2 separate regions of the Homo sapiens genome follow, and region 1 is linked to region 2. Evidence: fine-mapped expression QTL. Tissue or cell type: monocytes. Region 2 holds a variant in brackets; the other region holds the start of a gene. All regions are shown on one strand. Distances are from middle to middle. Region 1 holds the start of CPT1B (carnitine palmitoyltransferase 1B). Region 2 overlaps SYCE3 (synaptonemal complex central element protein 3).

Region 1 (4,314 bases), 21 kb after region 2:
AGGCTGGCGGTCTCCACTCTCCTCATCCTTAGGATCCCCATTGCCCCTAAGCTGCTTCTGGACTCTTCTAGGATCTCCTCTCTCTCTTCCCTTTCCCTCAGGCCTCACTCCATAACCCCCACTTGCCCACGGAAGCTGCTACTAGAGCTCTGGGCTGTCCTCCAGATCCCTTGCCTTGGAGCTGGGACAGAGCTGAGCACGTGCGGGGACCTGGGGGCTCTAGTTCATACCATGACATAATAGTTGCTGTTCACCATGAGAGGGCTCCTGCCTCGAAGGTAGATGTACTCTTCCCACCAGTCACTCACCTGTGGGGAGGTGGAAGGTTAGAGCTGGGGCGGGTGCAGCCAGGACACATGGCAGGTGACAGTGAGCCCAGGGGCAGGAACTTACATAGTTACTTGCCCACCATGACTTGAGCACCAGGTATTTCTGCAGCCTGGGGGCAGTCTTGTCCTGGAATTCTTTGGCCAGCAACTCCATGCGGTAATATTCCTCATCATCCAACAAGGGGCGCACAGACTCTAGGTACTGTCCAGCCAGTTATCATCACCGTGGGGCCAGATGGCAAGGGCTGCCTCTATCTTAATCCTCTTCCCACCTCTCCCTCCTCACCCAGCCCCATTATTCTCAAGCCCTTAAGGCCACTCTTTGCACAGAACCTTATATTTGGAAACATCTCCTGAATCCAACCTCCCCTGCCCACTGGGATGCCCAAGCGAGGCCCTCACCCGCTGAATTGTGGCTGACACCCTGGGCACAGGAAGCTTGGGCAGAGATGTCTGGAAGCTGTAGAGCATAGGGTGCCGGCTGGATAGAAGGCGGATACACATCTGGGGGTACAGAGCAGAGTGCTGGGGTGGGAGCCAGTGGAAAAAATGGAAACCAACCAGCAACTCCCTGAGACCCTCAGAGCCATCCCAGCCCCTCCAGGACAAACCACACACCAGGCACCAGTGCCCTGTCTGCCTCTCCCGTCTAGCTCAGAACCCCAAAGGAGTCCAAAGAGTCTCAACCCAGGTGCCTGAACCCCTCCACTGGCTGCTGCTCACAGCCCAGATCCTGGTCAAGTTGCTGGTCTTGCCATGCATCTCAAACATCCACCCATGGTAGCAGAGAAGCAGCTTCAGGGTTTGGCGGAAGAAGAAGATGCCCGTCACCCAGACGCCCGTGGAGAAGATGGCCATGCTGAGAAGTGCCCGGGTCTGCGGGGTCTGGTAGGGGCCACACCTATTGGAGAGGGGCAAGGGCTGCAGGGGGTCCTCTTGAGGCCAGCCTCGGGTGGCTGTGAACTGTCTCAGGGGAGACACCAAGGGGAAGAACCTCCCTGGGCACACTCATGTCTGACTGCATCAAATGAGCGGATGTAGGGCTAAGACAATGGTTGTCATAGGGGAGGGCTGCCCCGTGACTGCCAATGGCTGCTGTCCTGTATCTGCCCAGCTCAGGAACCTCAGCCTTGGGAGCTGGGCCCAGCCCTCCCTGGTGGCACCTGTGCCCTTCCAGTTTCACTCCTTACCCCTGAGGGAGGCATCTCTGGATGCAACTGACCAGCCCCAAGGAGATGTCCACGTTGCAGAAGGAGGAACCCACTGTTGCCATGATGACGACCAGCCAGCTGGTGGGGCTGCCAGGGTACACGCCCCTGAGGATGCCATTCTGTGGGCAGAAACAGGCGCCCTTATGGAGCCGGAAGGCGGGAGGTTAGCCTGCCTGTGAAGTCTTGGGAACTGGCTCCTGGTCTTGGCCTGGAAGGCTTTCTCTCCTGATGCCCTGCTGTGCTCCTTCCTCCGCCACACCCACAGCTCCCTGTGTCCGACCACATCCTGTGCACCCCTCTGGTGTCTGTACTTCCACAACCTGTACCGGGCAGAAGTGCCAGCCAAGGAGGCAGTGAGGGACCCTAACAAAGCGCTTAACAGCTGACAGCCGGCCTCTGCCTACGCTCTGGGAGAAGCACCTGTGCGCACCTTGATGCGGATCAGGCGTTTCTTCCAGGAGTTGATCCCAGACAGGTAGACGTGTTTCAGGGCCTCCCGACTGAGCCGGAAGTCGACCCCGTCTGGGGTCACCGTGAACTGGAAGGCCACGGCCTGGTGAGCTTCCGCCATCCTGGGGGTTGGTCGGCACCTAGGACGGGGGCAGATGGGTGCGCGGGCGCGCTTAGGCCGGCCCCGCCGCCAGCCGCGCCGAGACGCCCCCAGCCAGTCCGCGACCCCTCGCGCCCCCCACCCCGCGACTAGCGGCTGCCCCCGGCCCGCGCCCCCCGCCAGGCCAACCGCCGCCAAATCCTCGCGCCAGCCTTCCGGGTGGGCACAGCCACTGTGGTGCAGGGGATTTGGGCCTTGAAAGCTCCAGGAGCCCCAAGGACGGCGAAGGGCAGCCTGGAGTTGGGGGGCGTCAGCGAGGGCGCGGGCAGGGGAGAGAGGCGCCCCTGGAAGTGGAGCCGGCCTGGACAGAGGCAGGGTTCGGGAGCCCGCCCTTCCCCACCCGAGCGCGCGGGCCCCAGCGCCGTCCTCGCCCCTGTGCAGGGCTGAGGGCCCAGACCCCCGCGGGCCGCCCTGTGCCGGCCCCTACTCACAGCTCGGGTTCACTCCTGTCCGTGCGTGGGGCCAGCCACTCTGGCCCGTGTCCCCACGTCCTTCAGGCCTAGCCACCCCCGCCCCGCCCTCACCAGGAACCTGACACCTACTCCCAAATCGGGGTCGGGGAAAAACGTGGGGCGAGAACCAGAACCCACCCACCTTCCGCGGTGGGAATTGCAGGGCGCGGCTGGGTTTCTGTGCGGTGAAGGTTGCTCAAAGGTCTGGGAGCCTGGGGGGCCCCAGAGTCTCGTGAGGATGGTGGCTTTAGAGCTAAAAATAGCCAAATGTAGGGAAAAGGTCACCGATGTGTCAGCTGCTGCCTGTTCTGGGATCGCTGGTGCTCCGGGCGGCATCCCCACCTCAGGGTCGTCTTCATACCCCCATCACTCTCCTCCTCCCCAAGTCCTAGTATTTATTATTCTAAGCTGCAGCCAGGGGACTGGGGAGGGATGGGGGACCCCAACTGGCAGCATGAACGCTAACCACTTTCAATCCCAGAGCACTGAAGAGTCCCTTTGTGTGTACTGCTCGGTTTGGTACTTTCTGCTGCTGCTCAGCAGGGCCAGGACAGGGTGGGAAGAAGAAGCTTGTTTATTGTGTTACATACACAGCACGGGGCTCTGGCCTGCCAGCCATGGGGACCTACTCAAACTCAGGAACAGGCCGGTCTCCTGAACCTCAGTTTCACTTGGGGGCTCAGCCCAGTCGCCAGGGCCTTCTGCTCGTTGTTCCTCCCTCCAAGGTCCTGCCCTGGAGGCTCCAGGAGAAATCCAAGGAGTGGGAGGGTGGAGTCAGGATGAGGAGTGGACACTGGTCAGCTGCCCCTTCTGCTGGAAGTAGAACTGGAACCGAGACTGGGCATAGTCCTAGGGAAGGAAACCCACCCCACACAGTGGTGAGAAGACGTGGGACCAGCATTCTACATCCACCTCAGGCTGCCCACAGCCACCCGGGACTCCCCAGGCCTCCTGGAAGAGTGTGGCTGCTGCTGCTCCCCAGCCCCCCAGCTAGCATTCCCATCCCCAGGGTCACTTACCAAGTAACCAAATTCTATGGTGGACATGGATGCCTGGAGGATGGACCACAGACCCCAGAAGAAATGGGATGCCAGAGCATACCTGGGGGGAGGGCAGGAAAAGGAGGGGCATTCAAGAGCATGTCTAGCACTGCTTGGATCCCCTCACCCAGGTTGGCCAATCCCTACAGTTTTAACTTCTCCCCCACTGTCCTAACTCCACTCTCCACAGCCACCTTCCCTGCAGCTTGATAAATCTGCCTCTTCCCCAATCCCTCTTTCCTCTGCTCTGCCCTACCCCACCCTGCCCCTCCTTCCTCACCGACTGACTTCTACCAGCAAATCTTCTTCCAGTTTTCTCTGCTCCTCTTGGGAGAGGGTCTCACCTTTCTTTGCCTCTGCCAGGTAATGACGAATAAAATGCAACTACGATCAATGGCCAAGAGTCAGGAATTGGGGAGACTGTGGAGTATTTCCCAGGTAACATCCTTTCCGGCCATTCCTTCCAGACTCCACCTCCCTCCTTCCTCACAGGATGGGTCCTGCTCCCCAGCCTCTGGCCCACATACCTGCTGTTCTTGAGTGGGGTAGTCTGTGGGCCTTGCTTTGTAGAAAGGCCATTCCTCGTGAGTATAATCATAAACCCACTCACAAAAATGGTTCCCAATGTCAAAGCCCCTGGGAGAATAAGGTGGACATTCAGTCCCCAAATGC
Region 2 (4,384 bases):
CACTTTGGGAGGCCGAGACGGGCGGATCACGAGGTCAGGAGATCAAGACCATCCTGGCTAACACAGTGAAACCCCGTCTCTACTAAAAATACAAAAAATTAGCCAGGCGTGGTGGCGGGCGCCTGTAGTCCCAGCTACTCGGGAGGCTGAGGCAGGAGAATGGCATGAACCCGGGAGGCGGAGCTTGCAGTGAGCCGAGATCACGCCACTGTACTCCAGCCTGGGCGACAGAGCGAGACTCTGTCTTAAAATAAATAAATAAATAAATAAAACCAAGCTGTGCTCTGACCACCTTGGGCACATGTCATTAGGACCCCCTGAGGCTGTGTCACAGATAAGTGTCCCCAAACTTGGCAAAATAAACTCTCTAAATTAACTGATACGTGTCTCAGCTATTCATAGTTCAAAAGTACATAGGCAAAAAATTGCAAACATTTCTAAGGAGAAATTTTCTAAAGTCTGCTCTAGTGAATAAAAGCTATTTGGCCAGGCACGCTGGCTCATACCTGTAATCCCAACACTTTGGGAGGCCAAGGTGGGTGTATTGCTTGGCCAAAGTTGGTTCAAGCCGTGAGGAGAAGGAGAAATTGGGTATGCCTCGTTATACCTGCCTCTCTTTTGGAATTCAGGAAAAGGTGACTAGCATTAACATGAACACAGACCTTAAGTTTGATAAGAAAGCTTTTTACAATCTATTCCCTCTGAAGCCTGCTACCCGGAGGCTTCATCTGCATGATAAAACTCTGGTCTCCACAACCCCTTACCGTCATAACCCAGACATTCCTTTCTATTGATTCCAGGTCTTTAGACCATAACTCTTTCAACCAATTGCCAATCAGAAAAAATTTAAATCTATCTATAACCTGGAATCATCCCCCTTTGAGTTGTCCCACCTTTCCAGATCGAACCAATGTACATCTTTTTTTTTTTTTTTTTTGAGACAGAGTCTCACTCTGTCGCCCAGGCTGGAGTGCAGTGGCACCATCTCGGCTCACTGCAAGCTCCACCTCCCGGGTTCATGCCATTCTCCTGCCTCAGCCTCCCGAGTAGCTGGGACTACAGGTGCCTGCCACCACACCCAGCTAATTTTTTGTATTTTTAGTAGAGACGAGGTTTTACTGTGTTAGCCAGGATGGTCTCGATCTCCTGACCTCGTGATCCACCCGTCTCGGCCTCCCAAAGTGCTGGGATTACAGGAGTGAGCCACCGCGCCCGGCCGAACCAGTGTACATCTTACAGGTACTGACTGATGTATTCTCTCTCCCTAAAATGTATAAAAGCAAGCTGTACCCTGCCAACCTTGAACATATGTCCTGAGGACCTCCTGAGGCTGTGTCACAGGTGCATCTTTAACCTTGGCAAAATAAACTTTCTAAATTGATTGAGACCTGTCTCAGATACTTTTGGGTTCACACATCCTACCTGAGATTTTCTCCATCTCTTCTAATAGCTTTTCCAAGTCCTTATTCAGATCTGACAGCATTTTCAGCATGTTGTCATAGTTTCTTTCCTCAGGGTCAGCATCATCCATCTAGGCAATGCACAGAAAGAAGCTGCAGTCAGACAGACCTACATTTCAAATCCAGCTCCACTGGTTATAACTCAGTGATTTCTCTAAGGAATTCTTTCCCCATCTCTCAGATTCAGACAATACCACGTACTCCACAGGGCTGTTGTGAAGGTTAAATGGGAACATGTCTAAAGGCCCCAGCATAGCATTCGGCACATATAAGTTGTCCTTCCCCTTTCTTCCATCTTTGCCATACAAACGTAGCTGAAGGCTGGAGTCATTAACACAGAAAACATCTTCATTATAATGAAAAAAGTCTGTCATAATGGTGACATGGAATTTTTTCTTGCAAAACCATATTGAGTACCCACTAAGATGCAAGCTATTGTGCTGATGTGTTTCAAAGATACAATTCCTGTACCTAAGGAATTTCTAGTGCAATATGGGAGTAAGTCACACACACCATATGACAAACCAGGATGTGACAGATGTCGAAGCAGTTAATGTAATAATTACAGACATCAAGCGATGGGAGCCTGGAGGCGGGTACGTTTAATTTTAAAATATGAAATGATTCATACATTAAAAAAAATTATAATCAACTTAACTTTCCAGAAGAATTCTCCTGGGCATTAGAGGCAGTGCCCCATAGAGACTGTCCTGGTTCTGGAATTGAGCTGCCTGGGTTCAAATCTTGGCGCTACCTCATATCAGCAGTGTTACTTTTGGCAACTTACACATCTTCTCGACAAATTTTTGGTAATTTTTTTGAGTTTTTTTTTTTT[T/C]TTTGAGACGAAGTTTTGCTCTTGTTGCCCAGGCTGGAGCACAGTGGCACGATCTCGGCTCACCACAACCTCTGCTTCCTGGGTTCAAGTGATTCTCCTGCCTCAGCCTCCTGAGTAGCTGGGATTACAGGCAAGTGCCACCACGCCCGGCTAATTTTGTATTTTTAGTAGAGATGGGGTTTCTCCATGTTGGCCAGGCTGGTCTCAAACTCCTGACCTCAGGTGATCTATCCACCTCGGCCTCCCAAAGTGCTGAGATTACAGATGTGAGCCACCACACCCAGCCAAGTTTTGTATTTTTTAAACGGGAATTATTAGTATTACCTATATCTTGTGGAGTTTTGTGAGGATTAATTGAAATAAATTATATACTGTTCAGCACAGTACCTACCGTAATGAGCACTTAATAAATCATATCCGTTGTTATTTAAAATGTTGAACAGTAATTACATCACTCCAGATCCTCTCCTCACCTTTATTAATATACATTAATTCATTCTGTTAATATTTGATGCTCACCTATTTATCTACAAGGCACTAGTAAGAAAAGAGAGAAATAGATAAATAATGTAAGAGCTGCCAGGGAACTTGTAACCTCATGAAGGTGAAGGAATGAGCCAGGTAAGCATAAAACAGGGAGGGATGGGCCACAGATGCTGCGGTATTGTTCCCACTGTACATGTGGGGAAAGCCTTCCTGGTCTTTACTTCAGAGTTAAGGGCCTCCACTCAGTTCTCCTGTGACTTCCTGGGCCTCCCTCATCACGGTGCCTCTTAGCTGGTATTGTGATTGTGGATTCCTCTACCTCCCCAACTAGACTGTGGGGTCCTGGAAAGCAGAGGCCATCTTTCCAATGAACTATTCCTAGTGTTCAGCTCAGAGCTAGGAAAACAGCAAGTGCTTAATAAATGTTGGCTGAATAAAGGAGTTGACCATTGTAAAGCTCTAATTCTGAAAGAAAATCATGATCGTGGCCAAGCGCGGAGGCTCATGCCTGTAATCCCAACACTTTGGGAGGCCGAGGTGGGTGGATCACCTGAGGTCAGGAGTTTGGGACCAGCCTGGCCAACATGGTGAAACCCAGTCTCTACTAAAAATATAAAAATTAGCCGGGTGTGGCGGCAGGTGCCTAATCCCAGCTACTGGGATTACTGGGGAGGCTGAGGCAGGAGAATCGCTTGAACCCGGGAGGTGGAGGTTGCAGTGAGCCGAGATTGTGCCATTGCACTCCAGTCTGGGTGACAAGAGCGAAACTTCATCTCAAAAAAAAAAAAGAAAGAAAATTATTATCTTTCCCCTCTTGCCGTCCTCCCTGTTAAGGGTAGAGATTCTGAGGGAGGAGCAAAGGGCCCTCCAGGAGGCCTGACAGGCAGATCTGAGAATGAGGGTGCAGGGTCAGGGTGTATGGTCTTTCGGGATCTGTAAAGGAGGTACTTCTGTGGGCATGGAGCCATTCCACGTGCAGGGACTCCGTCCTGCTTTTTGGTAAGTAGGAATAGTTTGCTAAGAGTAAGTGGGGAGGTACAGGCAGGTGGCAGGGCAGGGGGCTAATAGTGGGTGATGGGAGGAAGAAATGTCCAGAACACCTTCCTTAACCCTCTCCTATAGCTATTCCCTCTCCTTCCTTTAGCAGCCAGGCCTCACACGTTTGTCTGTCCTCCTCACTCCACTGTCATCTGGCATCTGTCTCTGACATTCACTGACAATGCTCTCACCAAAGTCATAACTGGCACACCCAGGGCACTTTCTGTCTTTCTTTTATTTAACATCTCTGCAGCACTGACATTTGGCCATTTTCTCCTGCTCAAAATTCTCTTCTCTTGATGTTTTAACCTTGTTCTCTCCAAACTCTGTCCACCTGTGGTAGTTCCTTCCCTGCTCTTTCTTGGCTCTCTCCTTTACTGGCTCTAATGGGTCAAGGAAGGTCCTTTTAGCCCCTTCTCTTCTCACTACACACTCTTTTTTTTTTTTTCTTGAGACGGAGTCTCACTCTGTTGCCCAGGCTGGAGTGCAGTGGCGTCATATCGGCTCACCACAACCTCCGCCTCCCAGGTTCAAGCAATTCTCCTGCCTCAGCCTTCCAAGTAGC

Evidence for each region. PIP is the estimated chance that this variant, and not a neighbour inherited with it, causes the effect. A credible set is the group of variants that fine-mapping cannot tell apart.
Region 1: it holds the start of CPT1B, and the variant in region 2 is the best candidate, but not a certain one, in a credible set for the expression of CPT1B in monocytes (TOPMed, PIP 0.85).

Annotation. Positions count from the first base shown.
Region 1 is chr22:50,575,805-50,580,118 of GRCh38, forward strand. It overlaps CPT1B (carnitine palmitoyltransferase 1B), which reads right to left and starts at 2,623. Exons shown (of 20, transcript NM_152246.3): 1 at 2,582-2,623; 2 at 1,971-2,130; 3 at 1,520-1,659; 4 at 1,053-1,230; 5 at 732-833; 6 at 394-531; 7 at 231-308. The coding sequence starts at 2,111. It overlaps CHKB (choline kinase beta), which reads right to left. Exons shown (of 11, transcript NM_005198.5): 8 at 4,170-4,278; 9 at 3,923-4,026; 10 at 3,622-3,703; 11 at 3,159-3,451. The coding sequence ends at 3,377. It overlaps CHKB-CPT1B (CHKB-CPT1B readthrough (NMD candidate)), which reads right to left. Exons shown (of 30, transcript NR_027928.2): 8 at 4,170-4,278; 9 at 3,923-4,026; 10 at 3,622-3,703; 11 at 3,232-3,451; 12 at 1,971-2,130; 13 at 1,520-1,659; 14 at 1,053-1,230; 15 at 732-833; 16 at 394-531; 17 at 231-308. RefSeq lists an enhancer at 336-630 and silencers at 336-630, 2,115-2,194, 2,535-2,654.
Region 2 is chr22:50,554,875-50,559,258 of GRCh38, forward strand. SYCE3 (synaptonemal complex central element protein 3) reads right to left here. Exons shown (of 3, transcript NM_001123225.3): 2 at 1,423-1,531. The coding sequence starts at 1,531. Among named protein-coding and RNA genes, the nearest start is that of SYCE3, 5.9 kb to the right of the region's middle. The variant T/C (reference allele first, on the strand shown) is at 2,296.